Regions from separate parts of the Homo sapiens genome. Here all the other regions are linked to region 4. The links come from fine-mapping of genetic effects on gene expression. A gene starts in region 4. Each other region holds a variant in brackets. All regions are shown on one strand. Distances are from middle to middle.

Region 1 (7,954 bases), 92 kb before region 4:
TTCTCTTTGATGGCTATCTTCTCTTTGCACGATCAGTGGTGTTGTTTTGCCCCTGACGGAATCTGCCTTCTTGGAAGCTAACTGAACTGAATATGACACTTCCTGTGAGATGCCTTTAAACATCCTCTTTCATGTTAAAGTCATCTTTAACATCCTATGAAATTACTTTCCTATGAAATTACTTCATTCTCCATTCCCTGTTATTAAGGCTAGTAATTGGCGTTTTGCAGTTTCTCAATCCTAGCCCCTACCTTGTTTCCCAATTCCAGTACTTACTCTCCTGCACCTGTAGGCTCTTAGATCCCAACCAGACTAGCGTTCTGTTCCCATGTCAGCAGGAGCATGTACTCCACCCTCGCTAGTCCCTCTCAAGGACTGAAATCCATTTCCCTTCCTCTCACTGCTGCCACCATAATCTAAGTGTCCAAATCTCACTTGGGTTATTGAATTAGCCTCCTAATTTCTCTCTCTGTATGTATGTTGCCTTCCCAGAAATCCATTCTCCATATTATGTCACTTCCTTGCTTGATTTCTTTCAATGGTTTTGAATTTAGCATAAAATCCAAATTTCTTATTGAGATCTAGATCTCCGAGGCCCTCCATGGACTGATTTCTGCCAACCTTCCTGGCTTCTTCACTCAAGTTTCAGCCACCCTGGCCTCATACTGCTTTCCCCACACCTCCAGTTCTTTCTCTCCTCAGGGCCTCTTGCTATTCTGCACCTCTTCCCTCTTTGTACAGGGGTCTCAATCCCATCGACTGGCCTTATCTAATCTCAGACCTGTATCTCCAGAACTCATGTGGGTGTTAAAACCAGACATTGAGGGGATAGATTACTCAAATAACTTATAAGATATTATTCTAGTATTACACATGAGGAAAATTGAAGGTGCAGAGAGCTTAAATAACGTGTTCAAGATTATAAAGTAGGAAGCAGCATATCTGGGATTTGAACTCAAGCAACCTGTCTCACAGTGCTCAACATGGCTATACTATTCTTCCTGCCTCATATTTTGAAAGTGTACGCAATGTTGTTTCAGGTTTGGCTCTAGGTGAAGTGGGGAGAAGAATACAGTTATATCAGTATTCAGTGCTGGAAATAGACACTTCAAGTCGAAAGGGATTTAATCATGAAAATTAGGTACATTTGCAATATTAATAATTAGGAGAACTGGGGTCAAGGGTTGCCACTGGGCCACTGATGTCAAGGACATGCCACCATAATTGTGGTACAAGATCAGGAAACTGCTCTGAGGAAAATACCGTGTACATCACTTGCTGTTTCTCTGCATATACTTCAGACTCTTGTAGCTAGTGTCATAACTGAGTCATGCCTAGGCCTTCCCACTGTTCTGTAAAGTCAGCTACATCTGCACATGTTCAATTTTTAAAAAGTGATCTAAATATATGATTTAAATATCCAAATATGATAAAATATTAAATCTGAGTGATGGATATGTTTGGGGTATTACATAATATAATTTTTTTAAATTAAGAAAATCCTTACAGTTGACATTTAGTAAAAGAAACTCTTATGTTTCAGATTTTTGAAAAATATACAAACAACAGCCGCATCTCCATCAACAGGGCTGAAAGACAAACAACACTGAGCAAAATATTTGCAGCATATATAACAGACCATGATATACATTGAGTCTTTGTAAATCAATAATAAAACAGTGAACAGACCAATTTAAAAAGCAATAAAGGCATAAAATGGAATTACACAAAAGAAGAAATGTAGTATCCAATAAGGGTGTGAAAAATAATAATCACTAAACATTAGTAAAATGCAAATAAAAACCACAGTGAGACATCTTTTTATTTTAACCACAGATTGGCAAACATAACATTGGCAAAACCAAATGTTGGCAAGACAATGAGGAGACAGGGACTTTGATGCACAGATGTTTGGTGGGAGTGAAAATGGGTATAACCTTCCTCAGAAAGGGTAGTTTGGCAGTGTGTAAATGTGAAGGCATCATCATGGGACAGTGATGTGAGTGATGGAAAGCTACCAACAGAAAAGTTACAGAGAATGTAATTGCTATAATTCATGGAGATGTTACATAAAGTAGAATACTCCCAGAGTAAGTTTCCCAGACCCCCAATCCCCAGTGGAAAATACACCTGCCCATGATACTTCCCAGTATTTTCTATACAGAGGGATGAGTCTGCCAGGGACAAGAAGCTTACACCCTCTCATTCTTATGGGATCCTTATTCTCCCTGGCCGCCTTTTGGGCTATCTGCTTACAGGGACAAGTAACTATTACAAAATAACTTGAGTGTCTACCACCATGAATTAGATAAATTGAAGAGCCATCTTCCAAGTATACCTTTTTTCCTGCAAAACCAAGTCTCCGGTCTACCTGAATTTCATCCATGCAGGATCGAAATGTAATGGGTGCCTACCATTGGTCTCAGAAATCCCACTTCTAGAACTTACCTTAAGAAGGTAATTGTGTAAATATCATAAGATGGATGATTACAGATATTCATTGAAGACTTTCTAGAAACAAAAATTGGCTGAACTTAACTGCTCATCAATAGAGACTAAGTAAATTATGATATATCCATATAATGATCTCCTCTGGAGCCTCTAAAATATATGTGTACATGTTGGTATTTGTACCTCTATGCATAAAATTCTCAAAGTGGTCAGGGGTGAAATTGAAGAAAATAAATGGGTGGCTAGGCAGGTGTCAGAGAGACTTCATGTATATACTTTTATATGTTTAAAATTTGAACCATACGAATGTTTTTATTTTAAAATTAAAGTTAAAAAGTAAATACTGGCCGGGCATAGTGTCTCACACCTGTAATCCAAGCACTTTAGGAGGGCGAGGCAGGTGGATCATCTGAGGTCGAGAGTTCAAGACCAGCCTGGCCAACATGACAAAACCCCGTCTCTACTAAAAATACAAAAATTAGCCGGGTATCGTGGCACGTGCCTGTAATCCTAGCTACTTGGGAAGCTGAGGCAGGAGAATCAAATTTCTTGAACCTGGGAGGAGGAAGTTACAGTGAGCTGAGATCATGCCACTGCACTCCAGCCTGGGTGACAGAGCCAGACCCTGTCTCAAAAAACAAAACAAAACAAAACAAAACAAAACAAAACAAAACAAAAAAAGTACAGAGAGAGACAGGGAGAGAGAGGAGCAGAGATGCCTGAAGAGAGCCACCAGAAGTTATAGCAGTTATTTTGGGGTAGCAAGATTTGACCCAACACATTTTATTCCTTTACTTTTCTTTTTTTTATTCCTTTCCTTTTCTTTTTTTTATTCCTTTACTTTTCTATATTTTTTGAATCTTCATAAGCATGCATCATTTTATGGATGTAAAAAATTCAAATTACAAAAGGAAATTACATAACCATAATAAAAAGATAGTAAAGCCCAATTTTCACTAAAATATATTTTTAGGACCCTTC[C/G]GCATGGTGTTCCTTGAAGAGGACAGTCCCTCACCACTCCACTTCTATTCCCAGCCCTTGCTTCTGGAACTCTATCCTATGAGTTTTCATTTCCTTTTTTATTTTTTCCCTCAGAGTTGCTGATGGAGTGATCAAAAGCGTATTATGGCAAACACTTCAAGCTCTTAATTTCTGTCATATACATAACGTAAGTAACATTTTCTAATGTATTTATTCATTTCTTCATGATGACTCTTTTCTTCTAAATAGCTCAGGGTTTTGTTTGGAGAGCTGAAGACAAAGGGAAAGTAAGAGCCAAAGAAGCAAAACAAAAGGAAGTTCAGCCAGTAATCCCAGCACCTTGGGAGGCTGAAGTGGGAGGATCACATGAGCCCCAGAGTTTGAGACAGGCCTGGGCAACATAGCAAGACCCTGTCTCTGCAAAAAAGAAGAAAAGGGAATAACAAAAGAAAGTTCAAAATATGAGAAAAAAGTGATGCATTATTCATGGCTCTTTCCAATTTCTGTAAGAATCAAATTGCTAATTCCTTATGAATTAAAAATTTGAATAAATATAATGATTCCTTTTGCCATAGTGCCAGTGACCCCTGAAACTATTTTTAAATTGGGCGAGAATAATTTTTCAGGGCCGGTATGGTGGCTCATGCCTGTAATCCCAGCACTTTGGGAAGCCAATGCGGGCAGATGGCTTTGAGCTCAGGAGTTCAAGACCAGCCTGGGCAACATGGAGAAACTCTATCTCTATGAAAAAATATAAAAATTAGCCAGCCATGGTGGTGCGCACCTGTAATCCTAGCTACCTGGGAGGCTGGAGCTGGAGAATCACTTGAACCCAGGAGGCAGAGGTTGCAGTGAGCTGAGATCACACCACTGCTCTCCAGCCTGGACAACAGAGTGAGACCCTGTCTCCAAAAATAATAGTAAGTTTTCAGGATATTGCTGATGTAATCCCCCATGGTACTTTTTTTTTTAACTATTATTTTTAAGTCTCTTAAGTCCTTTACTCGATAGCAATCTAAGTGCCCCTTTCCTTTCCTTTTTAAAAACCGTTTCCGGCCGGGCATGGTGGCTCACGCCTGTAATCCCAGCACTTTGGGAGGCCGAGGCAGGCGGATCACGAAGTCAGGAGATCGAGACCATCCTGGCCAACACGGTGAAACCCTGTCTCTACTAAAAATACAAAAAATTGGCCGGGCATGGTGGCGGGTGCTTGTAGTCCCAGCTACTCGGGAGGCTGAGGCAGGAGAATGGTGTGAACCCAGGAGGCGGAGCTTGCAGTGAGCCGAGATCGTGCCACTGCACTCCAGCCTGGGCGACAGTGTGAGACTCTGTCTCAAAAAAAAAAAAAAAAATTCATTAATTTTTTATAGCCGTAGTTCTCAAGCTTGAGCATGCATCAAAATCACAAGGAGGGCTTGTTAAAACACAGCTTCCTGGGCCCCACCCCCAGAGTTTCTGATTCAGTCAGTCTTGGGTAGGGCCCCAAGAATGTGCATTTCTCATATTTTCCCAGATGCTACTGAAGCTGTTGGTTCAAGAACCACTATGTTAGAGAAATAATTTTGGCTGACTTTTTCTTGTATGTAATTTAACGTGTTCTTTCACTTGTATTTCCTGTAAATTGGAGTTTATATCTAGAGGCTTGATCATATTCAGGTTCAGCTTTTTTTAGTTAACAATGCCTGCTATGTGGTGCTGTACACTTCATATCGCATCCCCATTATGAGGTGTATAGCATCCACTTGTCCCACTTTCGATAATGTTAAAATTGATGAGTGGGCTCAGGAGGTATTCGTTTGGTCCCCTCCATTATCATTTTCCCTGTCAACGTTGTTTCCCTGATGGTTTTAGCATCCAGTGATGATTATTGCCTGTATCTAGTATTTCGTGACAGTAATTTTCTAATTCTGTTATTCCTTCTGCATTTAATAATTGGAATTGTATGGAAAAGAACTCATCCTCATGGACTCTGGTTACTTTTATTTATCAACACTCAGGGTGATGAGATGATATCTTAGCAACAATGACAAGTTTTGGGGAGAGGTGGCTGGAGCACCATTATAAACACAAATTTTGTATTGTGGTGTTTTCAATTCTTTGCTGTCATTGGTCTCTCCCATGCTCAGATTTTCCCATCTTAGGCCAACATGAGCTTCTTCAAGTTGGCTCCTGGTACCTTTGCTATATATCATTATATTTTTGGGACAGTCTCGCTCTACTGCCCAGGCTGGAGTGCAGTGGTGTTATCATAGCACCCTTGAGCCTCAAACTCCTGGGCTCAAGTGATTCTCCCACTTCAGCCTCCCTGAGTAGCTGGGACTACAGGCACATGCCACTACACTCAGCCAATTTTTGTTTTTGTAGAGATGGGGGTCTCACTATCTTGCCCAGGCTGGCCTCAAACTCCTGCCTTGGCTGCCCAAAGTGCCAGGATTACAGGTGTGAACCACTGCACTCAGCCAATGATAGCTTTTAAAAAAATATATCTAGCCCTTTTGAGTTGGTGCCTAGACAGAGACAGTGCTGAGGCAATGATACAGAGTACCATATGGTCAGTTTTGATGCCAGCAGAATGTCTATCATAGCAGTCTAGGATTGCTGAAAAAGAAAGTACAAGATCATGAGAATACATTTCAATACGGAGGGGAAGCTTTCTTTAGTTTTAGGAAAGTCAGTGAAGTTTTTATTAGGTTAAATCAAAAGCTTTTATTTTCTATTAATGTAGAGGGATATTTTTCACAAAATACATAAACCTATTTTTCATGATGCAAATTGTGCTTTCTGATGCTTAATAAAGATGATGCCAAATGGAATCCTTATCTCTGTTGCTTTCCACCATGCTATAGGAGATATCAAAGTTGCTGCAGGAGTTTTATGGGTAGTTAAAATGATTTCTAAAAATACCACTTACCACAAGTGTTTATACTTTATCCCTATATAACCAGACACTTTCCTGGGTACTTGGTTATAAGCTTGAATGCAATGTCTGTGGCTGCTTTATCTTTGTATCTCTTTAATACCTAAATTGGATATTTTTATATACAGGGTGATCAATAAATATTTATTGAATAACTGGATGGAGGGATGGGTGGATGGTTGGATGAGTCAATCAGTCAGTCAACCCAAACTGCCTAACTGATTGTGACTATTTCCAGTGGAGCCAAACATTATTGTAGACCAACGCAACTGCCATCATTTCTGTGCTTGGAACAACACGTTCTATACCCTAAGCTTTAAAACACTGAAAACTTCTGACTGATAATATGTGGCCTCTATTAAAAATAGGTAATTTTTCAGGCTAGGTGTGGTGGCTCAAGCCTGTAATCCCAGGACTTTGGGAGGTTGAGGTGGGCAGATTGCCTGAGGTGAGGAGTTCAAGACCAGCCTGGCCAACATGGTGAAACCCTGTCTCTACTAAAAATACAAAAATTAGCCGGGCATGGCAATGCATGCCTGTAATCCCAGCTACTACTCAGCAGGCTGAGGTGGGAGAATCACTTGAACTCGAGAGGCAGAGGTTACAATGAGCTAAGATCGGGCCACTGTACTCCAGCCTGGGCGACAGAGCAAGAGTCTGTCTCAAAAAAAGATAATTTTTCAGACTAACTTCCCTCCTCCAAGATGGAAATTACTTCTCATTTTCTTATGGTAAGCCTTTGTGTATCTGCCTTTTTATTTATCTATAATTAAAATGCTTGCAAAGAAAAAAATCTAAGCCATATATAAAGCTGTCACAATAATACAACTAAAACCTTTATACTCTCCTTATTTTTAAAGGAACTCCCATGATAGTCTCAAAGAGTAGAAAAGGCAATCTGACCTAGTGGTGTTGCTGACGACTCACAGCTTTAAACCTGTAGAGACCATGTGCACCTTATCATCTCCAGAGTCGAGATCCTAAACAGGACACTGCAGGTTAAAGTACCAAGGGATTCAGGCCTTGCTACTCCAACTATGGTTCATAGAGATCACCTGGGAGCTTTTAGAAATGTTGAATCTGAGGTCCACTACAGACCTGCTGAATCAGAGTCTGCATTTTAACCAGAGCTCCAGGTGATTCATGTGCACATTAAATTTGGAGAAGCGCAGGACTTAAGAAAATACGTATTCATTTGGTTCTCTTTTACCCTATAATATCACTAGAGTGAGGTAACCAAAGTGGTCCATTTAACGCCATAATGAACCCAGGGATTTTTATATATTTGCTGTATTGATTAGAGAACAGGGGCTTCATCTCAAAATGGCAAAAATGACTTTTTTTTTTTTTTTCTTCCTGAGACAGGATCTTGCTCTGTTTCCCAGGCTAGAATGCAGTGGCGCCTTCACGGCTCACTGCAACCTCAGCCTCCCATGCTCAAACAATCCTTCCACCTTAGCCTCCCAAGGAACTGGGACTATGGCACATGCTATCATGCATGGCTAATTTAAAAAAAAAATTTTTTTTTTTTTTTGTAGAGATAGTCTCATTGTGTTGCCCAGGGTGGTCTCAAACCCCTGACCTCAAGCGATTCTCCCACCTTGG
Region 2 (7,954 bases), 77 kb before region 4:
GTGCTGGGATTACATGTGTTAGCCACCACACCTGGCTATGTGAATAAGTTCTTTGGTGGTGATTTCTGGAATTTTGGTTCCCCCACCACCTGAGCAGTGTACACTGTGCCCAATGTGTAGTCTTTTATCCCTCACCCGCCGCCCGACCCTTTCGGCTGAGTCCCCAAAGTCCATTGTATTATTCTTATGCCTTTGTGTCCTCATAGCTTAGCTCCCACTTATTGGAACATAGATGTTTGGTTTTCTATTCCTGAGTTATTTCAGGAATAATGGTTAGAATAATGGTTAGAATAATGGTCTCCAGTTCCATCCAGGTTGCTGCAAATGCCATTATTTTGTTCCTTTGTATGACTAAGTAGTATTCTGCGGTATATATATACCACATTTTCTTTATCTACTTGTTGATTGATGGACATTTGGGCTGGTTCCATATTTTTTCAATTGCAAATGTGCTGCTGTAAACATGCGTGTGCAAATATATTTTTTATATAATGACTTCTTTTCCTCTCGGTAGATACCCAGGAGTGGGGCTGCTGGATCAAATGGTAGATCTACTTTTAGTTCTTTAAGGAATCTCCACACTGTTTTTCATAGTGGTTGTATTAATTTAGATTCCCTCCAGAGTGTAAAAGTGTTCCCTTTTCACCACATCCATGCCAACATCTGTAGTTTTTTTTTTTTTATTTTTTTGGTTATAGCCATTCTTGCAGGAGTAAAGTGGTATCACATTATGGTTTTGATTTGCGTTTCCCTGATAATTAGTGATGTTGAGCATTTTTTTCATGTTTTTGTTAGCCATTTGTATATCTTCTTTTGAGAATGTCTATTCATGTCCTTAGCCCACTTTTTGATGGGATTGTTTGTTTTTTCTTGCTGATTTGAGTTGCTTGTAGATTCTGGATATTAGTCCTCTGTTGGATGTATAGATTGTGAAGATTTTCTCCCACACTGTGGGTTGTCTGTTTACTCTGCTGATTATTTCTTTTGCTGTGCAGAAGCTTTTTTAGTTTAAGTTCCATCTATTTATCTTTGTTTTTGTTGCATTTGCTTTTGGGTTCTTGGTCATGAGAAGTCTTTGCCTAAGCCAGTGTTATCTTCTAGAATTTTTATGGTTTCAGGTCTTAGATTGAAGTCTTTGATCCATCTTGAGATGATTTTTGTATAAGGTGAGAGGTGAGGATCCAGTTTCATTCTTCTACATGTGGCTTGCCAATTATACCAGCACCATTTGTTTAATAAGGTGTCCATTCATCACTTTATGTTTTTGTTTGCTTTGTCAAAGATCATTTGACTATAAGTATTTGGCTTTATTTCTGGTTTCTCTATTCTGTTCCATTGGTCTATATGCCTGTTTTTATACCAATACCATACTGCTTTGATGACTATGGCCTTATAGTATAGTTTGAAGTCAGGTAGGATAATCCCTCCAGATTTGTTCTTTTTGCTTAGTCTTGCTCTGGCTAGTGGGCTCTTTTTTTGGTTCTATATGAATTTTAGGATTGTTTTTTCAAGTTCTGTGAAGAATGATGGGGGTATTTTGATGGGAATTGCATTGGATTTGTAGGTTGCTTTTGGCAGTATGGTCGTCTTCACAATATTGATTCTACCCATCCATGAGCATAGGATGTGTTTCCATTTGTTTGTGTCATCTATGATTTCTTTCAGCAATGTTTTGTAGTTTTCCTTGTAGAGGTCTTTCACCTCCTTGGTTAAGTATATTCCTAAGTATTTTATTTTTTTGCAGCTATTGTAAAAGGGGTTGAGTTCTTGGTTTGATTCTCAGCTTGGTTGTTGTTGGTATATAGCGGGGCTACTGATTTATGTACATTAATTTTGTTATCCTAAAATTTTGCTGAATTCATTTACCAGTTCTAGGAGCTTTTTGAAGGAGTCTTTAGGGTTTTCTAGATATATGATCATGTCATCAGCCAACAGCAAAAGTTTGACTTCCTCTTTACCAATTTAGATGCCCTTTATTTTTTTCTCTTGTCTGATTGCTCTAGCTAGGACTTCCAGTACTATGTTGAATAGAAGTGGTGAAAGTGGGCATCCTTGTCTTGTTCCAGTTCTCAGGGGAAATGCTTTCAACTTTTCCCTATTCAGTATAATGTTGACTGTGGGTTTGTCATCAATGGTTTTTATTACCTTAAGATATGTCCCTTCTGTGCTGATTTTTCTGAGGGTTTTCATCATAAAGCAATGCTGAATTTTGTCAAGTGCTTTTTCTGCATCTATTGAGATGACCTTGTGATTTTTGTTTTTAATTATGTTTATGTGGTGTATCGCATTTATTGATTGCAGATGTTAAACCATCCCTGCATCCCTGGTATGAAATCCACTTGATCATGGTGGATTATCTTTTTGACATGCTGTTGGATTTGGTTAGCTAGTATTTTGTTGAGGATTTTTGCATCTATGTTCATCAAGGACATTGGTCTGTAGTTTTCTTTTTTTGTTATGTCCTTTTCTGGTTTTGTTATTAGGGTGATACTGTCTTCATAGAGTGATTTAGAGAGGATTCCCTTTCTCTGTCTTTTGGAATAGTGTCAATAGGATTAGTACCAATTTTTCTTTGAATGTCTGATAGAATTTAGCTGTGAATCTCTCTGGTCTTGGACTTTTTTTCATTGGTAACTTTTTAATTATCATTTCAATCTCGCTGCTTCTTATTGGTCTGTTCAGAGGTTCTATTTCTTCCTGGTTTAATCTAGGAGAGTTGCATATTTCCAGGAATTTATCCATCCTCCTCTAGGTTTTCTAGTTTATGCACGTAAAGGTATTCATAGGAGCCTTGAGTGATCTTTTGTATTTCTGTGGTATCAGTTATAATATCTCCTGTTTCATTTCTAATTGAGCTTAGTTTGATCTTCTCTCTTCTTTTATTGGTTAATCTTGCTAATGGCCTATCAATTTTATTTATCTTTTCAAAGAACCAGATTTGTGTTTCATTTATCTTTTGTGGGTTTTTTTTGTTGTTTCAATATCATTTACTTCTGCTCTGATCTTGGTTATTTCTTTTCTTCTGCTGGGTTTACGTTTGTTTTTTTCCTCTTTCTCTAGCTCCTTGAAATGTGACCTTAGATTGTCTATTTGTGCTCTTTCAGACTTTTTGATGTAGGCATTTAATGCTATAAACTTTCCTCTTGGCATTGCCTTTGCTGTATCCCAGAGGTTTTGATAGGTTGTGTCACTATTATTGTTCAGTTCAAAGAATTTTTAAGTTTCCATCTTGGTTTCATTGTTGACTGAACAATCATTCAGGAGCAGGTCATTTAATTTCCATGTATTTGCATGGTTTTGAGAATTCCTTTTGGAGTTGATTTCCAATTCTATTCCACTGTGATCTGTGAGAGTTCTTGCTATAATTTCAATTTTCTTAAATTTTTTTATTTTGTGGCCTATTATATGGTCTATCTTGGCAGATGTTCCATGTGTTGATGAACAGAATGTATATTCTGCATTTATGGTGTAGAAAGTTCTGTAAATATCTGTTAAGTCCATTTGTTGTAGGATATAGTTTAAGTCCATTGTTTCTTTGTTGACTTTCTGTCTTGATGACCTGTCTAGTGTTGTCAGTGGAGTGTTGAAGTCCTCCACTATTATTGTGTTACTATCTCATTTCTTAGGTCTAATAGTAATTGTTTTATAAATATGGAAGCTCCAATGTTAGGTGCGTATATATTTAGGATTGTGATATTTACCTGTTGGACTAGTTTTTTTTTTTTT[A/TTA]TCATTATATAATGTCCCTCTTTGTCTTTTTTAACTGCTGTTGCTTTAAAGTCTGTTTTGTCTGATATGAGAATAGCTATTCCTGCTCACTTTTGGTGTCCACTGGCATGGAATACCCTTTCCCCCCACTTTACTTTAAGCTTATGTGAGTCCTTATGTGTCAGGTGGGTCTCATAAAGACAGCAGATACTTGGTTGGTGAATTTTTATCTACTCTGCCATTCTGTATCTTTTAAGTGGACCATTTAAGCCATTTACATCCAACATCAGTATTGAGATGTGAGGTACTATTCATCATGCTACTTGTTACCTGAATACCCTGGGTTTTTTTCATTGTGTTGCTGTTTTATAGGTCCTGTGAGATTTATGCTTTAAGGAGATTCTATTTTGGTGTATTTCAAATATTTGTTTCAAGATTTAGAGCTCCTTTTAACAGTTCCTATAGTGCTGGCTTGGCATTGGCAAATTCTCTCAGCATTTGTTTGTCTGAAAAAGACTGTATCTTTCCTTAATTTATGAAGCTTAGTTTCACTAGATACAAAATTCTTGGCTGATAATTGTTTTGTTTAAGGAGGCTAAAGATAGGACCTCAATCCCCTCTAGCTTGTAGGGTTTCTACTGAGAAATCTGCTGTTAATCTGATAGGTTTTCCTTTATAGTACCTGATGCTTTTGCCTCAGAGTCCTTAATATTCTTTCCTTTGTCTTGATTTTAGATAACCTGATGCCTATGTGCCTAGGCGATGATCTTTTTGCAATGAATTTCCCTGATGTTCTTGGGATTTGGATGGCTTCTTGTATTTGGATGTCTAGATCTCTAGCAAGGCCGGGGAAGTTTTCCTCAATTATTCCCTCAAATATGTTTTCCAAACTTTTAGATTTCTCTTTTTCCTTGGGAACACCAATTATTCTTAGGTTTCATCGTTAAACATAATACCAAACTTCTTGGAGGCTTTGTTCATTTTTTTAATTCTTTTTTTCTTTGTCTTTGACAGATTGGGTTAATTTGAAAGTCTGGTCTTCAAGCGCTGAAGTTCTTTCTTGAACTTGTGCAGTTCTGTTGCTGAGACTTTCTAGTGCATTTTGCATTTCTCTAAGTGTGTCCTTGATTTCCAGAAGTTGTGACTGTTTTTTTATTTATGCTCTCTGTTTCACTGGAGATTTTTCCATTCATATCCTGTATCATTTTTTTATTTCTTTAGGTTGGACTTCATCTTTCTCTGGTGCCTCCTTGATTGGCTTAATAGTTGACCTTCTGAATTCTTTTTCTGCCAATTCAGAGATTTTTCTCCTGGCTTGGATCCATTGCTGGTGAGTTAGTGTGATCTTTTGGAAGTGTTAAAGAACCTTGTTTTGGGCCAGGCACAGTGGCTTACGCCTGTAATCCCAACACTTTGGGAGGCCAAGGTGGGCAGATACCTGAGGTCAGGAGTTCGAGACCAGCCTGGCCAACATGGCTAAACCTTGTCTGTACTAAAAATTCAAAAATTAGCCGGGCGTGGCAGCACGTACGTGTAGTCCCAGCTACTTGGGAGGCTGAGGCAGGAGAATCACTTGTACCCAGGAAGCAGAGGTTGCAGTGAGCCAAGATCACACCACTGCACTCCAGCCTAGGTGACAGAGCAAGACTCCGTCTCAAAAAAAAAAGAACCTTATTTTGTCATCATGTTACTGGATTGTTTTTCTGGTTCCTTCTCATTTGGGTAGACTATGTCAGAGGGAAGATCTGGGACTTGAGGGCTGCTGTTCAGATTCTTTTGTCCCATGGGGTGCTTCCTTGATGTGGTGCTCTCCCCTTTCCCCTAGGGATGGGGCTTCCTCAGAGCCAAACTGCATTGATTGTTATTTCTCTTCTGGATCTAGCCACCCAGAGAAGCTACCAGGCTCTGGGCTGGTACTAGGAAGTGTCTGCAAAGAGTCCCGTGATGTGATCCATTGTCAGATCTTTCAGCTATGGATACCAGCACCTGCTCTGGTAGAGGTAGCAGGGGAGTGAAGTGGACTCTATGAGGGTCCTTGGTTGTATTTTTGTTAAGCACACTGGTTTTATGTTGGTTGACTTGGTTGTATTTTTGTTATGCGCACTAGTTTTATGTTGGTTGACCTCCAGCCAGGAGCTGGTGCTCTCAAGAGCACATCAGCTGCGGTAGCATAGGGTGGATCAGGCAGTGGGTGGGGCCATAGAGCTCCCAGGAGAATATGGCTTTTGTCTTCAGAGCTCCTTGGCTGTCCCACAGAGCCTGCAGTGGTAATCCACCTTCTTCAAAGGGTCTGTGGATTCTCTTGGCTTACCTGGTATGTTCCTGTGGTAGTTCTTGGAGCAAAAGTTCATGATGTAAGTCTCCACACGCTGCTCTGTCCGTCTGAGTCATAGCTGCAAGTTAGTCCTGCCTCCTATCAACCATTTTCCTCAGAAGCCATCAGAATAGACATTTCTTTAAAGAAGATATATAAGGCAGGGCGCAGTGGCTCAAACCAGTAATCCCAGCTAACTCAGGAGTCTGAGGCATGAGAGTCAGTTGAACCCAGGAGACAGAGGTTGCAGTGAGCCAAGACTGCACCACTACACTCCAGCCCAGGCGACAAAGTGAGACCCTGTCTCAAAAAAAAAAAAAAAAAAATTAATTAAAAATGTAAAAAATAAAAAGTAAAAAAGAAGCTATACGAATGGCCAATAAGCACATGAAAGATGCTTATGGTAATCATTAGGGATATGCAAATCAAAACCACAGTTAGATACCACTTTGCACCCATTAGGATGACTATTATTTTTAAAAAACACACAGAACAAAATAACAAGTGTTGGTAAAGATATGAAGAAATTAGAGCCCTCATTCATTGCTAGTGGGAAAGTACAATGGTGCAACTGCTGTGGAAAGCAGTATGGCAGCTCTTCAAAAAATTAAACATAGAATCACTGTATGATGCAGCAATTCCACTTCTAGGTACATACCCAAAAAAATTGGCAGCAGGGACTTGAAGATATTTGTATGCCAATGCTTATAGTAGGATTATTCACAATGACAAAAGGTGGAAACAACCCAAATGTCCATCAAGGATGAGTGGATAAACAAAATGTGGTATATACATATAATGAAATCTTACTCAAAAAGAAATGAAATTCTGATATATGCTATGACATGGATGCACCTTGAAGACACTAAGCTGAGTGAAATAAGACAGACAGAAAAGGACAAATATCGTATGATTCTATTTACGTGCTCTACCTAGAATAGTCAAATTCATGGAGACAAAAAAGAATAGTGGTTATCAGGGCTGGGGGAAGGGAGAATGGGGAGTTGTTGTTTAAAGGATACAGAGTTTCAGGCTGGGATGATGGAAAAAACTTTGGAGGTGCATAGTGGTGATGATTGTGCAACACCGAATGTACTTCATGCCACTGAATTGCACACTCTTAAATGGTTAAATGGTAAATTTTATATTATGTGTATTTTACCACAAAATAAATTTAAGCTCCTCCTATATATAGATATATAGATATACACAGAGAGATAAAAATTTTAAAGTCAATAACCAAAGGAGAGAATATTTCAAAATTGGTAATAGGTTGATAGATAAGAGCTTATATAAATTGGTTTAAAAGAGAACCACAAAAGCTCTGAATAGAAAAATTAGCAAGATATTGACAGTTCACAGATGAAAGAAAAGGCTAAAAACATGAAATAATCTTCCTCTTCACTGATATCAAATAAATGCACATTAAAATACTACTCTTCACCAATGAAGCTGGCAGAGTATTTTCTGTTTGTTTGTGTGTGTGTTTGTTTTGAGACAGAGTCTCACTCTGTCACCCAGGCTGGAGTGCAGTGGCATTATCTCAGCCCATTGCAACCTCCACTTCCAGGGCTCAAGCAATCCTCCCACCTCAGCCTCCCAAGTAGTTGGGACAACAGATATACTAATTTTTGTATTTTTGTATTTTTGATAGGGCTAATTTTTGTATTTTTGGTAGACACAGTGTTTCACCATGGGGCCCAGGCTCATCTCGAACTTCTGGCCTCAAGTGATCCTTCCACCTCGGCCTCCCAAAGTGCTGGATTACAAGTGTGAGCCACCGTGCCCAGCCAGATTTTTCAAACAATAACTACTGAGAGCTCACAAGATTGTTTTTAGTGGGAACACAATTTCGAACAAATTCTTGAGAACGCAGTAAGTGCCCTTTGTATCTTTAATTTCACTTTTAGGAATCTCCCATAATCCAAGATACTA
Region 3 (7,954 bases), 100 kb before region 4:
AAGAAACCCAAATGGGTAAGTAATCTGGAAACTGAAATTCTGTACAGCCAGTTCTCAGTTTCATTTTCTGTGGAATTAACCATGGCAAATTTCAAATCCCAGCCACAATTCCCCTTTCTACCACAATGCATCTGGCTACCCCATCCAGTCTCAGGATGTCTTCAAAAGGCAAACAATGATTTACCTATAGGAGTTATAATTAGGAGAAAAACCTACCACAGATATAAAATCAAAATGAATTTGAGGCTAAATTATGTATTGGATTATCTGAGTTCAAGGAATGAACCATGGTTTGATACTAGGAAACCTATTCATATAATTCACTAATAAGATAAAAAAATGTACGATTGATAAATTTGAAAATTTGAAATGTTGATAAATTCAACATCCTTTCCTGATTTTTTTTTAATCCCTAGCATCTAGGATTAAAAGAATAGTTTTTTTTTTTTGAGATGGAGTCTTACTTTGTTGCCCAGACTGGAGTGCAGTGGCGCGATCTCAGCTCACTGCAACCTCCACCTCCTGGGTTCAAGCAGTTCTCTGCCTCTGCCTCTGCCTCCCGAGTAGCTGGGATTACAGGCACACACCACCATGCCCGGCTAATTTTTGTATTTTTAGTAGAGACGGGGTTTCACCATCTTGGCCAGGCTGGTCTTGAACTCCTGACCTCATGATCCACCTGCCTCGGCCTCCCAAAGTGTTGGCACACACACCCCTCTTCAAATCAACTGCCAATGTTATACTCAATGGTAAAACTAAAAGAACTTTCATTAAAGTGAGGAAACAAGACAAGGATGTCAGCTGTCACCACTATAATGCAACGTTGTTCTGAGAACTCTAGCCAATGTAATGTAATAAGAAAAACAAAACATAGCTTTTGGAAATGAAATAAAATTGTCATTATTTGCAAGATATTACTGATCTACAAAATCTAAGAGAACCACCTAAAGAGTTATTAAAACCAGTGGAATTCAGTACAGCGACCCCTATAACACGACAGATTCCACATGCAAAAATTAACAGCATTTGTATCAAACAACACTTTAGAAAATCTAACAGAGAATGGCTGGGTGCAGTGTCTCATGCCTTTGGGAGGCTGAGGCAGGTGGATCACTTGAACTCACGTGTTCTAGACAAGCCTGGCCAACATGGTGAACCCCTGTCTCTACTAAAAAGATAAAAATTACCTGGGTGTGGTTGTGGGTGCCTGTAGTCCCAGCTACTCGGGAGGCTGAGGCACGATGATTGCTTCAACCCAGGAGGCGGAGGATGCAGTGAGCCGAGATCACACCACTGCACTCCAGCCTTGGTGACAGAACAAGACTCTGTCTCAAGAAAAAAAAAAAAAAAAAAAATTAGTGGAGAAGGATCCCATTCAAATATTAACAACAACAAAAGTTTAGGAATAAAGATAAAGAGTTGTTCTGACTCTGCATGAAGACAACTACAAAACTGAGATATGTAAGGATTTTATTTAAATGAACATGTTTCTAAATGGAAATATTCATGATTATAAAAATATTGCCTCTACAGTTTATCTGTTTATTAAACAAAATTCTAATCAGAATACCAATAGGGTATTTTTTGAAATTTGAAAAAGACTAAATCGAGAAAAAAGGGACTTTTAACTGTCAAATATTAAATCACAGTAGTTTAAGAGACTCCCTTTGACAAAAAAGTACCATAAACAAAACTAAAATAGAAATGAGATATTGGGTAAACTATTTGCCAGAATGAATAAATTTTATGTCTACCTATGCAGATTTTACAAATAACATTTTTTAAAAGGTTAACATCCAATTAATAAATATATTTATTCAAAAAAAACTTTCATAAATGTAGACTGTGCACCCAGCCAGTGCTAAGTCTACAGCATTGAACAGAGCACACACAGAAAAGGAGCCTCACCTTACCTTCCAGTGAACATGGGAAGCAAATCATTAAAAAAGAGAAGGAGGCTGGGTGCAGTGGCTCATGCCTGTAATCCCAGCCCTTTGGGAGGCTGAGGCAGGTGGATCAGCTGAGCTTGGGAGTTCAAGACCAGCCTGGCCAACATGGTGAAACCCATCTCTACAAAAACTACAAAAATTAACCTAGCCTGTTGTCCCAGCTAGTTGGGAGGCTGAGGTAGGAGGATCACTTGAGCTCAAGAGGTGAAGGCTGCAGTGAGCAGAGATCATGCCACTGCACTCTAACCTGGGTAACAGAGTGAGACCCCATCTCTCTTTTTTTTTTTTTTTTGAAGACAGAAGTCTTCAAAAAAAAAAAAAAAGAGAAGGAAATGACCAGTACATCTAAGAAAACATGCTTATCCTTCCCTATTAATCAAGGAAATTCAAAACTTTTTAGCAAGGTACCATTTCTCATCTGTTAAATTTGGCAAAGATTTTTCAAAAATTATTATACCCAGTCTTATCAACAGTCAGGGAATCAGACCTCCTCATTGATGGCTAGAGAGAGTGCCATTAGGAGGGCAATTTGGCAATATGTATGAAAAAATTTTAACTGTTTTCATCCTTTGATCAAGAGATTCCATTTAGAGAAATTTATAGTAAGAAAATAATCAGATGAGGGCAAAAGTTATACATATGAATGTTCAATACGTCATTATTTATAACAAAAATATTGGACTCCCCTAATTTTCCAACAGTAAATAATTGGTTACAGGCATTTTGGTATATCCATCCATACAATAGTACAATATGCAGCCAGCCCATTAGAGAGCATGCTTTAGAACAATAGTTAATGTCCTGGGGAAATGTTCCTGGGATGATATATGAAAAAATGAGATAACATACTAGAATGTTAAGTATAATTGAAAATTTGAGTTTTCTCAAATTTTCTCAAATTTCTGTGAATGCACATATATTACTTTTAAAATAAAAATTAATATAAAAACAATTAAAATGGCATATTAATTCATAGTTAAACTTTATCCTGCACTAAATAGGATGTTGTATGTTGACTTAGAAGACAGATATGTTCAGCCATTCTATAAATTAATTTATAAATTAACATACATTTTCATGAAGTTAGAAATTTATGCTTACTTCATGTATTGTTCAAGGCCCTGAAACTATTATAAAACATTCAATGCATACACCAGTTTGCTTGACTTGAACATCTTTCTCTTCCCTACTTGTATCCTAAGCTTTCCTGTCTATAGACTTAGCTCATGTTCTTCTCATTTTAATCTAGAAGGTTCTAGCCTTTTTCACCTTCACTGTCTCTATCATAATATTTATTTATTTATTTATTTATTTAGAGACAGAGTCTCACACTGTCGCCCAGGCTGGAGTGCAGTGGGGCGATCTCGGCTCACTGCAGCCTCTACCTCCTGGGCTCAAGCTGTCCTCCCACCTCAGCCTCCCAAATACCTGGGACTACAGGGACCCGCTACCATGCCCGGCTAATTTTTGTATTTTTAGTAGACACAGGGTTTTGCCATGTTAGCCAGGCTGCTCTCGAACTCCTAACCTCAGGTGATCCACCTGCCTCAGCCTCCCAAAGTGCTAGGATTACAGGCATGAGTCCCCACACCTGGCCTATCATAATCTTTAAAATGTGAAATCCTAGATATTTGTAACATCTCTAAGTTTCCTTCATCTGGATGGAATTTCTTCCTTCCTTTGAATCCCCATTGAATTTTATTTTCATCCCTGTTGTGGTACTTGGTATTTATACCGTATATGTTTTTATGTGCATACTCTCTCTCACTAGAGTATAAGTTTTTTGAGGGCATACTTCATGTCTCATTGATCTTAATGGCTTCCTTATGCCTAGCATTCTTTCGCTCAAAAAATATTTCATGGAGCATTTTACACTGGTGCAGAGGATACAGTTATAATGATACAGTCCTGCCCTCAAGAAGCTTAAAATGTGATGAAGAGACAGATATTCAAAGTAACAACTACAAATGGTTATGTTGATTGGGTTAATGTTGATGCAAGGGATGCACAAGAGAAGCAACTCCAACATCTGTTGACCCCGGGAAGTGAGGGAGATTCTGCAGAGAAGGCAGCATTTGGGCTTTGAAAAGGAAGAGGAGTTGGCCAGATGGACACCCCTGGCGGAATGCAGAGACACAAGAAAGAGCAAGGCATGTTCAAGCAACTCCTCTGTTGAATATGTGTTTTGCAATGCCAGGGACCTCTGAACTATCCCACTTTGCACTCTTAAGTTTTACAAATGTGCTTAGCACTGCTGGTGTTCAGTAGTGCGTTGCGTCAGCCCTGAGACTTCAATCTATTATGCATGGAGTAATGCAAATAGGAACAATCTAGAATATGCTGCTCTTTTATGAAATGTTGGGTACTTCTAGATAACAATGATTAATTTAAAGCATTCATCTACTTGTACTCCCTTCCTAAAATCTATTTAAATAACAGGCCAGAGAGTATTTTTAAAGGCCTAAGCCCAGTGAATAGCAAACAGAGATAAACAACCAGCTAGTATACATACCAAGCCTTTTGGACTATTGTTTACTAGAGGAAACACGTAGGATAAATAACTGGTGTGTGGGCATAAGATCATCAATGTGGACGGGCGCAGTGGCTCACGCCTGTAATCCCAGCACTTTGGGAGGCCGAGGTGGCTGGATCACAAGGTCACGAGATCAAGAGCATCCTGGCCAACACAGTGAAACCCCATATCTTCTAAAAAATACAAAAAAATTAGCCAGGCGTGGTGGCGGGCACCTGTAGTCCCAGCTACTTAGGAGGCTGAGGCAGGAGAATGGTGTGAACCCAGGAGACGGAGATTGCAGTGAGCTGAGATGGCACCACTGCACTCCAGCCTGGGCGACAAGAGCGAGACTCTGTCTCAAAAAACAAAAACAAAACAAAAAAAAAAACAAAAAAAAAAAAAAAAAAAAAAAAGATCGTCGATGTAGTGAATGCGGATTGAGCCATGGGATGGTGAGATAATGAAGGGACCCAACGACTAAATTACAGCATAAAGAAGAGTTGGGCCAGGCGCAGTGGCTCATGCCTGTAATC[C/G]CAGCACTTTGGGAGGCCGAGGAGGGCAGATCACTTGAGGTCAGGAGTTCAAGACCATCCTGGCCAACATGGTGGAACCCTGTCTCTACTAAAAATACAAAAAAATTAGCCAGGCGTGGTGGCAGGTGCCTGTAATCCCAGCTACTCGGGAGGCTGAGACAGAATTGCTTGAACCTGGGAGGCAGAGGTTGCAGTGAGCCCAGACCATGCCACTTCACTCCAGCCTGGGCGACAGAGCGAAACTCCATCTCAAAAAAAAGAAAAAAAAAACCAGAATCTCGAATAAGTTGTGCCCATATTGTTATAATCAGCCCAATCTAAAGTCATATTTCTTCCCCTCTGGTCCAACACCCATGAAATCCATTTCTTCATACATTCCCCGTTATAAATCAGCAAAATGTTGTAGTTCTTTTTGCTATGTAAATCTCCTCTTCCTCTGTTTCACTTTGTTATAGGCCCCCTGGGTCATGCTGGGATCTGACTTTAGTTAAGGTTTGGAGACCTTGAGGGGAGGTGGGGAGAGGAGGCTTGAAGAGAGCGGGCATCCCCACAAAATGCACCTGCCTCAGGTGAGATCTGAGAGTCTGCAGCAAGGCAGAACCAGCCTTATTGTACAAGTTTGGGGGCTACTTCCTATGAGAAGAGAAGTTTGGAAGGAAGTTAGGGTGCTCTTAGTTACATGAATACTTTCAAGTGTCACATTCCAATTCCTGGACTATTTTTCCTTCTCATCTCATTAACTGAGAAACTAATTATCCTCACATAAATTCAGTCTTTGTTGTCATTGAGCACCCTGCAGGGTTATTGTCTGTGTCAGTGTTTTAGTAATCTCATGGAGATCCCAGTGGATCTGTGAAGTGGGTCCTACAGAAACAAGAAGTAAGGGGTTCTTTTAGGGTCGATATCAAAATGCCTGACGTCCTAACTGTGCCTTGAACCAAGATATTAAAGCTCTGAACCTGTGCTTTTTTTTCTTTAATTTCTCCAGTGAAGTTAGAAGCAACCAGACCACCTCACATGTCTGTTACTACTTATGTTCCCCATATTGTTCTATCACACTTAGTTCACCAAAGCCTTGCCTTGAATAGGCATTTTATTCCAGATGGCCTCAGGTGATTATTTAAATTCCCTTTTCAGGCCAAGAACAGTGGCTCCTACCTGTAATCCCAGCACTCTGGGAGGCCGAGGCAGGCAGATTGCTTGAGGTCAGGAGTTCAAGACCACTCTGGGCAACAGGGTGAAATCCCGTTTCTACTAAAATACAAAAAATTAGCCAGGTGTGGTGGCAGGCACCTGTAGTCCCACCTACTCAGGAGGCTAAGGCAGGAGAATTGCTTGAACCCAGAATGCAGAGGTTGCAGTGAGCCAAGATCATGCCATTGCACTCCAGCCTGAGTGACAGAGCGAGACTCTGTCTCAAAAAAATAAATAAATAAATAAATAAATAAATAAGTACCTGTTTCATTACTGAGTGGCCATCTGCCAGCATCCCAGCCATTAATGGTAATTAGATGCTGCCCTTCCGTCCTCATTACATCAGATATCCAATCCTAGATTCTCACAGCCTTGGATTGTTTCCCACATCCACTTCTTTTACCATGTCCTGAATTGGTCAGGATTCAACAACAGAATTCACTCTAGCTAGTTCAGAGAGAAAGAGATTTGTCACAGGGTTTTAGTTTATAAAATTTCTGGGAGTGCCAGAGAAACAAGCTTAATTGAGCTCCTATTAGGTACCAGGTCCTGTTCTAGGTGCTGGGGCTATAATAACGGACAAGAGAAAGTCCTTGCCCTTGTGCAATTTACATTCTGATGTAGTCCAACAATAAAGAAGAGTTATGAGTCTTTGAAGAAAAATAAAGCACAGTGTGGAGTTAGAGAATGCCCAGGAGGTGTATTAGTCAAGGTTCTTCAGAGAAACAAAACCAGTGGGATACATAGAGGTACTGATAACAGGAAATTTATTATTGGTATTGACTCATGTGATTATGGAGGGAGAGAAGTTCCACAATCTGCCATCTGCAAGCTAGAGAACCAGGAAAGCCGATGGTCTAATTCAGGCCAAGTCCTAAGGCCCCAGAGGACAGAGAGTTTCAAAGTCCAAAGGCCTGAGAGCCAGGAGCTTCCACATCCAAGGGCAGGAGAAGATGGACGTCCCAGCTCAAGGAGAGAGAAGCAGCCCTTCCCCTACCGTTTTGTTGTATCCAGGCCTTCAACGGGTTTGATGATGCCTGCCTGCCTGCCCTCACCTTTGTGGGTGGGTCTTCTTTACGCGGTCTACTGATTCAAATGTGAATCCCTTCCAGAAACACCCTCACAGACACACCCACAAATGATGTTTTGGGTTTTTTTTGTTTTTTGAGAGAAGGTCTCATTCACTTGTCTCACTCTCTGCAGTGGCCTGAACATGGCTCACTGCAGCCTCAAACTCCCAAACTCAAGCAAATCCTGCCTCAGTCTCCTGAGCAGCTGGGACCACAGACACTCACCATTATGTCTGGCTAATTTTTAAACTTTGAGTAGAGGTAGGGTCTTGCCATGTGGCCCAGGCTGGTCTCAAACTCCTGTGCTCAAGCAATCCTCCTGCCTCAGCCTCCCAAAGTGCTGGGATTACAGGCATGAGCCACTGCACCTGGCAGAAATAATGTTTTAGCAGCTATCTGGTCATCCCTTAACCTAGTCAAGTTAACACAGAAAATTACTCATAACTAAAAGGAAGTAGAAGGAACAATAAACTGTTAATAGAAGTAGAAATAGAAGTAAACATAGAAATAGAAGTAAAATGTTATTAACAGCCTGATTGAAAGTATAAATAAGCCTTGGGGGCCAGGCGCAGTGGCTCACGCCTGTAATCCCAACACTTTGGGAGGCCGAGGCAGGCAGATCACCTGAGGTCAGGAGTTCAAGACCAGCCTGACCAACATGAAGAAACCCCATCTTTACTAAAAATACAAAGT
Region 4 (7,954 bases):
TCAGAGCCGAAAACAAAAAAAAAACTTTAGAGAGAAGGTAGCATTTGAGCTGAGGGCGCGCAGGGTGGATAAGAGTTCCAGCGCGAGCGTGTATCTGGGAGCTGGGGTGGGGCTGTGGTGGGCGGCATTAGAGAAAAAAGGCGACAGGCATTCTGAATAGCAGGAGACAGAGACAGAAGTGATGTGTTTGTAGGAGGCAAGAGCAGTTCATTTTGAGTGAGAGATACAGCTAGAAAGATAAGTAGCGGTCCGATTGTGCAAGGCCATGGATACCAGGTTAAGGACTTTGGAATTTATCCTGGGACGCCAGTGTGAGTTCTTGAACAGAAAAGTAAGTAGCTGGGTCCGAAGTTCGCGTCAGAAGGATCACTGTGGCTGCAGCAAGGCAGAGAACCAGGTGGCCGCGTCCTGGCCAGCAGGGCAGGCAAAGGCGCGGAGCGTTGCACTTGCACCTGCAGGGGGCACACTGAAGGGCCAAACGCCCACCCCCGCCCCCGTCCTCGCCGCCCTACTCCGATGCGCCGCGCTCGGAACTCGGCTAGCCCGCCTGGACGCGCCCCTCTCGGTCTTCGCCTATTCCGCCCGGACGCGCCTCGTGCGTCACGTCCGCCGTGGCGTGAGGCTCCTTAGAGCTGAGGAGGGAAGCGAAAAGAAGCCTCTGCGCCTGCGCCAGGGCGCACCCGTCGGCGGTAAAAGCTGAGGGGCTGGCGCGGGGGATTGGTGGGCGACACTTTTACGTCTACACGTGCCTACCCGTCTGCACGTTTCTGAGTCCGCACGGTTGTCTTCTCTTGCTGAATGGACATAGGTGTTTTGTTTTGTCCCAAGAGATACAGGCAAGCAGTACAGGGGTGATGGAGTGCTCCTTGACCTTAGCGGGGCTGACCCTGGCACTCCCTGTAGGTCTCCCCGCTGCGAAGCACTGAGTCTCTTCACTGCAGTTTCTCTCCAGTTACCCGCCCTGTCTACGGCCCAAACGGCCATGCTAGTGAAAACCTGCCCTGGCCGCTAAGCAAGCCTAGCCCAGGCTGTAACCCATGTTTCTAGGGCTTGTTTTCCTCTGCAGTCAAATCAGAGATTCGGAGTTGAAGGGGATCTTAGAGGTCAACATGCCCAACCTCTTAGCCCGAGTGAGTGAATGTACGCTTTTTACCTGCACACCCCGAAAATCGCCCGTTTTCTGGAAACAACGTTGATTATGTAGTCCTGGAACTTTCCTGCATGCACATTTTATTCCTTCGACAATATTTATTGCTACCTACTGTGTGCAGGCATTGTAGGCCCCGGGGATACGATTAAAACCAATGAAGAACGAAACGCACAAGATTGTTGATCTCGGCCGGGCGCGGTGGCTCACGCCTGTAGTCCCAGCACTTTGGGAGGCGGAGGTGGGTGGATTGCTTGAGGTCAGGAGTTCGAGACCAGCCTGGCCAACCTAGCGAAACCCCACCTCTACTAAAAATACAAAAATTGGCCGGGCTTGGTGGCGTGCGCCTGTAGTCCCAGCTACTCGGGAAGCTGAGGCAGGAAAATCACTTGAACCTGGGAAGTGGAGGTTGTAGTGAGCCAAGATTCCGCCTGCATTCTAGCCTGGGCAACAAAATGAGACTCTGTCTCAGAAAAAGAAAAAAAAAAAAAAAAGATTGTTTCTCTCTCTCTAGGAGTTTACATTTTATTTGGGGGCAGGAGGGAAACCAACAACCAAAAATAGAGGACTGATTTGATTTAGTGCTAGCAGGAAATAAAAAGAACATAAGGTAGAAATACACAGGTGAGAATTACTTGGAGTGATCGGAGAAGGCCTCTTGGAGGTGGTGATGTTTATAACCAGCCAAGGGAACAGTTAGGGGTTCTAGGCTGAGAGAAGAACAATGTTCTTTAGGCAGGTTGTTGTTTTCTAGGAATAGACAGAAGGCTACTGTGACTGGAGTGTGGTGAGGCGAGGTTGTGAATGGTGAGAAAACATTGAGAATGTGAGCAGGAGCCAGATGCACGCCTTTGTGGGGTACGGTAAGAAGTTTGAAATGTATTCTAAGAGCAATGGGAAGCCAAGCAATAGTTTGGGGTACAGGCTTGATGTTGGTTCATTTGGAACCATACAAACCAATCTCTTCCCCCATATCACAACCCTTTAAATATTTGAAGAGGGCTGACCGGGCGCGGTGGCTCAGGCTTGTAATCACAGCATTTTGGGAGGCCGAGGCGGGTGGATGACGAGGTCAGGAGTTCGAGACCAGCCTGGCCAATACAGTGAAACCCCATCTCTAATAAAAATACAAAAATTACCTGGGTGTGGTGGCAGGCGCCTATAATTCCAGCTTTCATTCCACACACTTTGAAAGTGGGGAGTTTTTCAAATGTAAACCAAGTATGTATATTTTTATTTTTTCAATAAAACAATAAAGATGGGTCTCGCCAGCCTGGTCTCAAACTCCTGAACTCAAATGGTCCGCCCACCTCGGCCTCCCAAAGTGCTGGGATTACAGGCGTGAGCCACTGCGCCCGGCCGGTCTGTGTGTATGTGTGTGTGTGTGTGTGTGTGTGTGTATATTTTTTTTTGAATTGAAACGGAGTTTTGGTTTTGTTGCCCAGGCTGGAGTGCAGTGGCATGATCCCGGCTCACTGCAACCTCTGCCTCCTGGGTTCAAGCGATTCTCCTGCCTCAGCCTCCCAAGTAGCTGGGATTACAGGCGCCCACCACCATGCTCGGCTAATTTTTGTATTTCTTATGGAGACAGGTTTTCACAGTGTTGGCCAGGCTAGTCTGGAACTCCTGACCTCAGGTGATCCATCCGCCTCGGCCTCCTAAAGTGCTGGGATTACAGGCATGAGCCACCTCGCCTGGCCGGCCTGTGTATTTTTAAAGGAAATAACCTAAGAGTTGTTTTTCCAGATTTTCAAAGAGGTCCTGTAAAGATTAAGAACCACTGAACCTTTCTCGTTTATGTGATCCTGGTTACTGTTCTCAGGAATAGCAGGACACAATGTCAGCTTTAACCCAGGCTAGTTCCTCTAAACTGCCTTCTTATCGGTGAAATGAAAATAATAGGGTTGCTATGGGGATTAAATGAGATGATACTCAAAAAAATGATAATTAATGATAAATCATAAGGTGTCTGCCACAAAGTGCCCCTATTATAAACAAACAGTGGCCTGGAGGGACAGTTTATAAATACTGCTCCTTTAGCATTCCACTAACATTGACTGAGTGCCTGTTCTACACTGTGTAGAGGCCCTGGTGAAAAAGATCTGCCTTCCAGTTTATTATCTAGTCGAAAGAACCGCAAAAGATAACAAAACACAATAGACTGAACGCCCTGAGAGGGGCATAAGTGCAGTGCTCTAGGAGCTGTAAAAGAGGTCTCGATATCCACTGGAGGAAAGTGCTTACTGGAGTTCATTTCTGGAGTGGGTTTAAAAGATGAACAGAGGGAATCTAAAACATTCACACAAAATCAATACTACACGTACACATTTTATTATTTTGTGGAAAGACCACTTAGAAACACCGCAATCACTTCTACTACTCAGCAGATACTGAGCAGTAGGTTTCGTGACAGAGCACCTGTCTTTTGTCCAGTCTGTTTACTATACATTGCGTGCTCTGGGCAGTCCTTATCTTCGTGTTCAGGAACAAAGTACACACACCCCTTTCCGAAACGAAGGGCCCAGGGACTCCGAGAAGGGTGGGAGCCCTCACGGCCAGGCCACACAATGGGGAGCCTCTTTACCCTAGTCATCACCCACCCTTGCAGGCCCCACTTTGCCAGGGTGCGACTTCTCGGGCCCCTTCGCCCCTCCCCTGCAGCCCCCAGGAGCGCAGCCACAGCCCGGCCGGGCGCCCTCCCTGTCTCTCTCTCTCTTTCTCTCTCGAGCTTTCCTCCTCCTTCACCGGGAGCCGGAAAACCCGGAGCGAACCAGCCCAGCACGGCAGCGCATGCTCAGTAGCGAGCAGGTTCAGTTCGCTAGTAGGAAGCTCCAGCGCTACACCGGCGGCGGCGGTGGCGGCGGCGGCCGCGGCGGCACCTCAGGGCAGCCAGATTCCCCAACAACGACCTCCGGTCCTTCCCCTTCCCCGCGAGACCTCCGCCCCAGCTCCGCCCCGCCCGGGGCTCTTGCGTTTCGGAGTCCCAACTACGCGGAGCGGGCGCCGCGGCCGGAGCGTCCCTCCACACGTCCTCCCCCAGCCGCCAGCTCCGCCGCGGGGCCAGACCGGGCCCGGGAGTGCAGCCCCGGCGGGCGGGCGGCGGCCGCGGCAGAGGGCAGCCCGGGGCGGCGCCGGCGGGCCGGGGAGGGGCGGGGGGCCTGGCCCCGGGGCGGTGGTGCGGGATGCCGCCGCCTCCGGGCCGCGTCCGTTCTCCACGGCTGGTACCTGTGTCGGGTGGGTGGCCAGGCGCGGGCCTCGCCCCCCAGCCCCCTCGCCAGGGCTAGCCCGGCTGCGCGGCGCCCGGAGGGGGCCGGGCCGTCCGGTGGGGCCGCGGCCCTGTTCCGCGCTGCGAGCTCGCCCTCTCGCGGCTCCCTGGCCCGGCCGCCGCCGCCCCTCTCCCCGCCCAGAGGCGCCCCGGGGGCACCATGCAGGCGCAGCAGCTGCCCTACGAGTTTTTCAGCGAAGAGAACGCGCCCAAGTGGCGGGGACTACTGGTGCCTGCGCTGAAAAAGGTGAGGAGCACGCGGGACCCCGCTTCCCGGCCGCAGCCCCCCAGCGCGGGCGCTGGGGAAGGGCTGGGGAGGCGGGGCGCGCGCAGGGCCGTCTTTCTTCCCGGTCTCGCCGCGTCTCCAAAAGGACGGCGCACACGGAGAGGCCCCCCTCATACGGCTGGCTCTCGGTGTTGACATCCACCGGGTGTGTGGGAATGCCGCAGGGAGCCGGGGGGAGTTTATCCGGATAATCCAACCCCTGAGAGGTGAATGCTTTGCCCTTTGATTCCAGGACAACAACAGTTGGAGGAGCCTCAGTTTTCAGCGGAGGTCAAAGCAGGCCACTTTTCCGTCTTCTTGGTCTTAGCCCGGAGCTGCTGTCAGCCTACCGTTTTAGGTGTCCAGTACGCTGGTTTTAGTGGCTTGAGAATGCCCTGGCCGTAAGGCTTGCTCAAAGGAATTGCGAGCTCGCCTGCCAGTAGGAACGTGGCCTGCTCTGCTCGCCGTCAGTATTCACTCCTCATTCTCCTGGTTTCCCCCGCTCCTCCGATTAACAGGGGCTGGTGCACATGCTACCAATTTCAGGGGGGTTTTGTTTTGTTTTTGCAGCGTTCGAGATTCTTGGTGCTGTCATTTGGCTTGTTAAGAATTTTTAGCCTTTGTATGTTTAAGTTTGCTACATTGTTACCTGAAGTTACATACCCCCGATCTGTGCTTTTAAATGTTTTAGTATAATTAGGAAGTGTTCTTACGTTTTTAAAGCTTCTAAAGCAGCAGTGTGACAACCAGACTATTTTTGTTTTCTTTTCTTCATTTACCTTTTCTGTAAAGATTGCTTTACTCTTCTAATAGTGTTTCTAAATCCCAGTTTCTTGCTGCTCAAAGAATGTTTCATGCTAACTGCTTCTACTAAGAATGGAGATTATGTTTTACCTTTTATGCTAAACATTAAAAGGTGTCTGATATTTCTCAAAGGCCAGTAACTTTTACTTTCCCTTTTGCCCTGTTCTCCTCCGGTCCCTCTTGCTGTCTTACAGTGGAAACTATTTGGTTTTTCAGGAGAATTTGCTCATATATTTCTGGCTTAAATTACGGACATTTTCCCCTTCAAGTGTCTGACTAGTCACAAACATCTATGTAATTTTTTTTAAAAAACAGAAGAAAAGATGCCATATATCTTACATACTTTACTCCTTAGAAATCCCTTCAGGCTCTCACTCCTTACTTTTGCTTTACTTGCAAGTTTGACTTCTTAGCTTGTAATGGAAGGGGTGTAGGAGGTCTCTGTGATGCTAGAAGCTGGTGTCCGGATAGAGTAAGGGGAGACACGGAAATTGTTTAAAAACGTGTAAAGGAACTCATAAAGCATTGCCAAATAGGGGCCATTTTGCTTAGAGGCAAAAGCAGCTCCTTTCCCAGGGGAATCACCAAGGTATCAGCTGAGGATCCTTTGAAGCAGTGGAAAGAATATTGTAGGAGTTGACAGACGTTGTTTAATTCTGCCACACTGGTGGCCCTTGCTGAAATCTGTCCACAAAAGCATTTTGTTTGGCTGGCATAGTGTTGTTTTATTTTTAAATGTAATTAGTTGCTAATATTTGAAAATGGGAGATATTACATAAAACCTGAATTTTCGGCTTTTCTTGAAGAATAGGAAGGTCTTGTCATTTAGGGCCTGTATTCAAGCGAGGCACTAAACTGCTGGAGTTGAGTAAATGGCTCCCTTCTTTAGACAGGTCATGTATCTCCACCTTACCACAGCCCCCACTTGTCCTTTTTGCATATTTACATAAAACAGCTTTTGACTTTAAGTTAGAGATACTTTTGCAGTAGAAGTGATAGGAGGAGGTGGAAGTGTACATAATCTAGCTGATATGTAAGGTTCTTCCAATTCTTATTTAAATAGCCACTAACAATGATTCTAAACAAGATTGAAAATACAGTATGTTTCATATCTGGATATGCTGTTGGTAGCTCAAAACCTACGTTTTTACTTGCCTGCTGGACATTTCATGTGGATATCTCCATATCTTGATTTCTTCCTTTGATTTGTTATTGAATTATTCGTAGATACATCCGACTTGTGTTCTCTTACTCTTACCTGAGGCTCTTTGGATATGCTAGTCCCTTCATCCTTCTTTGCCTGGTCCAACACTACTCATCCTTCTAGACTCACTCAACCTGAACTGTCAAATCATCAGGGCTGAGTTGGATATTACTCCTTTGTTTTCTTTTTGCACCCTGTCCTAGCTCTGTGAATTTTAAGTTCCTATTTACTTGCCTATAACTAGATTGGATGCTCCTTGAGAACAGGGATGATATCTTACCCACATTTTATTCCCCATACTTATAGTGCTTGACATCTGGTAGGCACTCAATTTGAATAAATAGGTGAGGGGATATACAAACTAAAACTATCACTTCTCTCCTCCACCTGTCATTTCAGTTTTTCTTCTCGATTAATGGCTTTATTGTTACATTTGACTGGTTTAAAATGTTGGGGTCATCTCTGGCTTCTTTGTATTACTGTGCACACTCAGGTAGAGCCTGTATGTTCATTTCCCTTTGACATGTTCTTCTAGTCTATTCCTCCTCCGACTTCTCTAATTGAGTCTCCTTTGTCAGACTACTGTGATAACTTCTTAATGGGGTTCACTGGCCCCCACCTCACCTTCTGTTTTTCAAATCTCACCAGTTATAGGACACTTCTGAACATGTCACACTCAGAATTGTTGATGTCTTTTGAGTTCAACCTATGCTAAAGTGCACTTTTTAGCATAGAATTAACAGCAATTGATATTTGGCTTCATCCTGCTTTTCTGACTGGATTGTCTACCATAACCTTTTATCTCCTTTTTGCTTTAGCCAGTCCGGACTGCTACTTTTCCTGAATATGGCTGGAATGTCCCACTGTATCTGTTTCACCGCATCTATGAGTCTAAGTCCTATCTTATCTATTGCACAAATATATCATGCCTACTATAGACCAGGTATTGCCCTTGACACTCAGGCTAAAAAGGTAAATGACAGGGCCGGGCGCAGTGGCTCACGCCTGTAATCCAGCACTTTGGGAGAGCAAGGTGGGCGGATCACGAGGTCAGGAATTCAAGACCAGCCTGGCCAACGTGGTGAAACCCCATCTCTACTAAAAAATACAAAAATTAGCCTGGCGTGGTGGTGGGCACCTGTAATCCCAGCTACTCGGGAGGCTGAGGCAGGAGAATAGCTTGAAACCGGAAGACGGAGGTTGCAGTGGGGCGAGATTGCACCACTGCACTCCAACCTGGGCAACAAGAGCAAAACTCTGTCTCAAAAA

Direction of the effects. Positions count from the first base shown, and alleles are read on the strand shown. Sizes are in standard deviations (SD) of each study's normalised expression. Not every link is listed here.
In carriers of allele TTA in region 2, the expression in naive CD8 T cells of the gene that starts at base 3,944 in region 4 tends to be higher than with A alone (large effect, 0.84 SD a copy in Schmiedel 2018).
In carriers of allele C in region 3, the expression in testis of the gene that starts at base 3,944 in region 4 tends to be higher than with G alone (moderate effect, 0.50 SD a copy in GTEx).

What was found. PIP is the estimated chance that this variant, and not a neighbour inherited with it, causes the effect.
Region 1: its variant is the best candidate, but not a certain one, in a credible set for the expression of SOS1 in whole blood (INTERVAL, PIP 0.84).
Region 2: its variant is the best candidate, but not a certain one, in a credible set for the expression of SOS1 in naive CD8 T cells (Schmiedel 2018, PIP 0.88).
Region 3: its variant is the best candidate, but not a certain one, in a credible set for the expression of SOS1 in testis (GTEx, PIP 0.60).

What each region holds. Positions count from the first base shown.
Region 1 is chr2:39,209,065-39,217,018 of GRCh38, reverse strand. CDKL4 (cyclin dependent kinase like 4) reads left to right here. Exons shown (of 10, transcript NM_001397900.1): 4 at 3,547-3,619. Among named protein-coding and RNA genes, the nearest start is that of CDKL4, 31 kb to the left of the region's middle. RefSeq lists a silencer at 7,285-7,485. The variant C/G (reference allele first, on the strand shown) is at 3,433.
Region 2 is chr2:39,194,033-39,201,986 of GRCh38, reverse strand. The region is part of intron 5 of CDKL4 (cyclin dependent kinase like 4); the gene reads left to right. Among named protein-coding and RNA genes, the nearest start is that of CDKL4, 46 kb to the left of the region's middle. The variant A/TTA (reference allele first, on the strand shown) is at 3,727.
Region 3 is chr2:39,217,900-39,225,853 of GRCh38, reverse strand. CDKL4 (cyclin dependent kinase like 4) reads left to right here. Exons shown (of 10, transcript NM_001397900.1): 3 at 1-15. Among named protein-coding and RNA genes, the nearest start is that of CDKL4, 22 kb to the left of the region's middle. RefSeq lists an enhancer at 5,599-6,100. The variant C/G (reference allele first, on the strand shown) is at 4,998.
Region 4 is chr2:39,117,041-39,124,994 of GRCh38, reverse strand. It overlaps SOS1 (SOS Ras/Rac guanine nucleotide exchange factor 1), which reads left to right and starts at 3,944. Exons shown (of 23, transcript NM_005633.4): 1 at 3,944-4,659. The coding sequence starts at 4,573. RefSeq lists silencers at 368-497, 4,075-4,794 and enhancers at 798-947, 978-1,147, 4,995-5,074.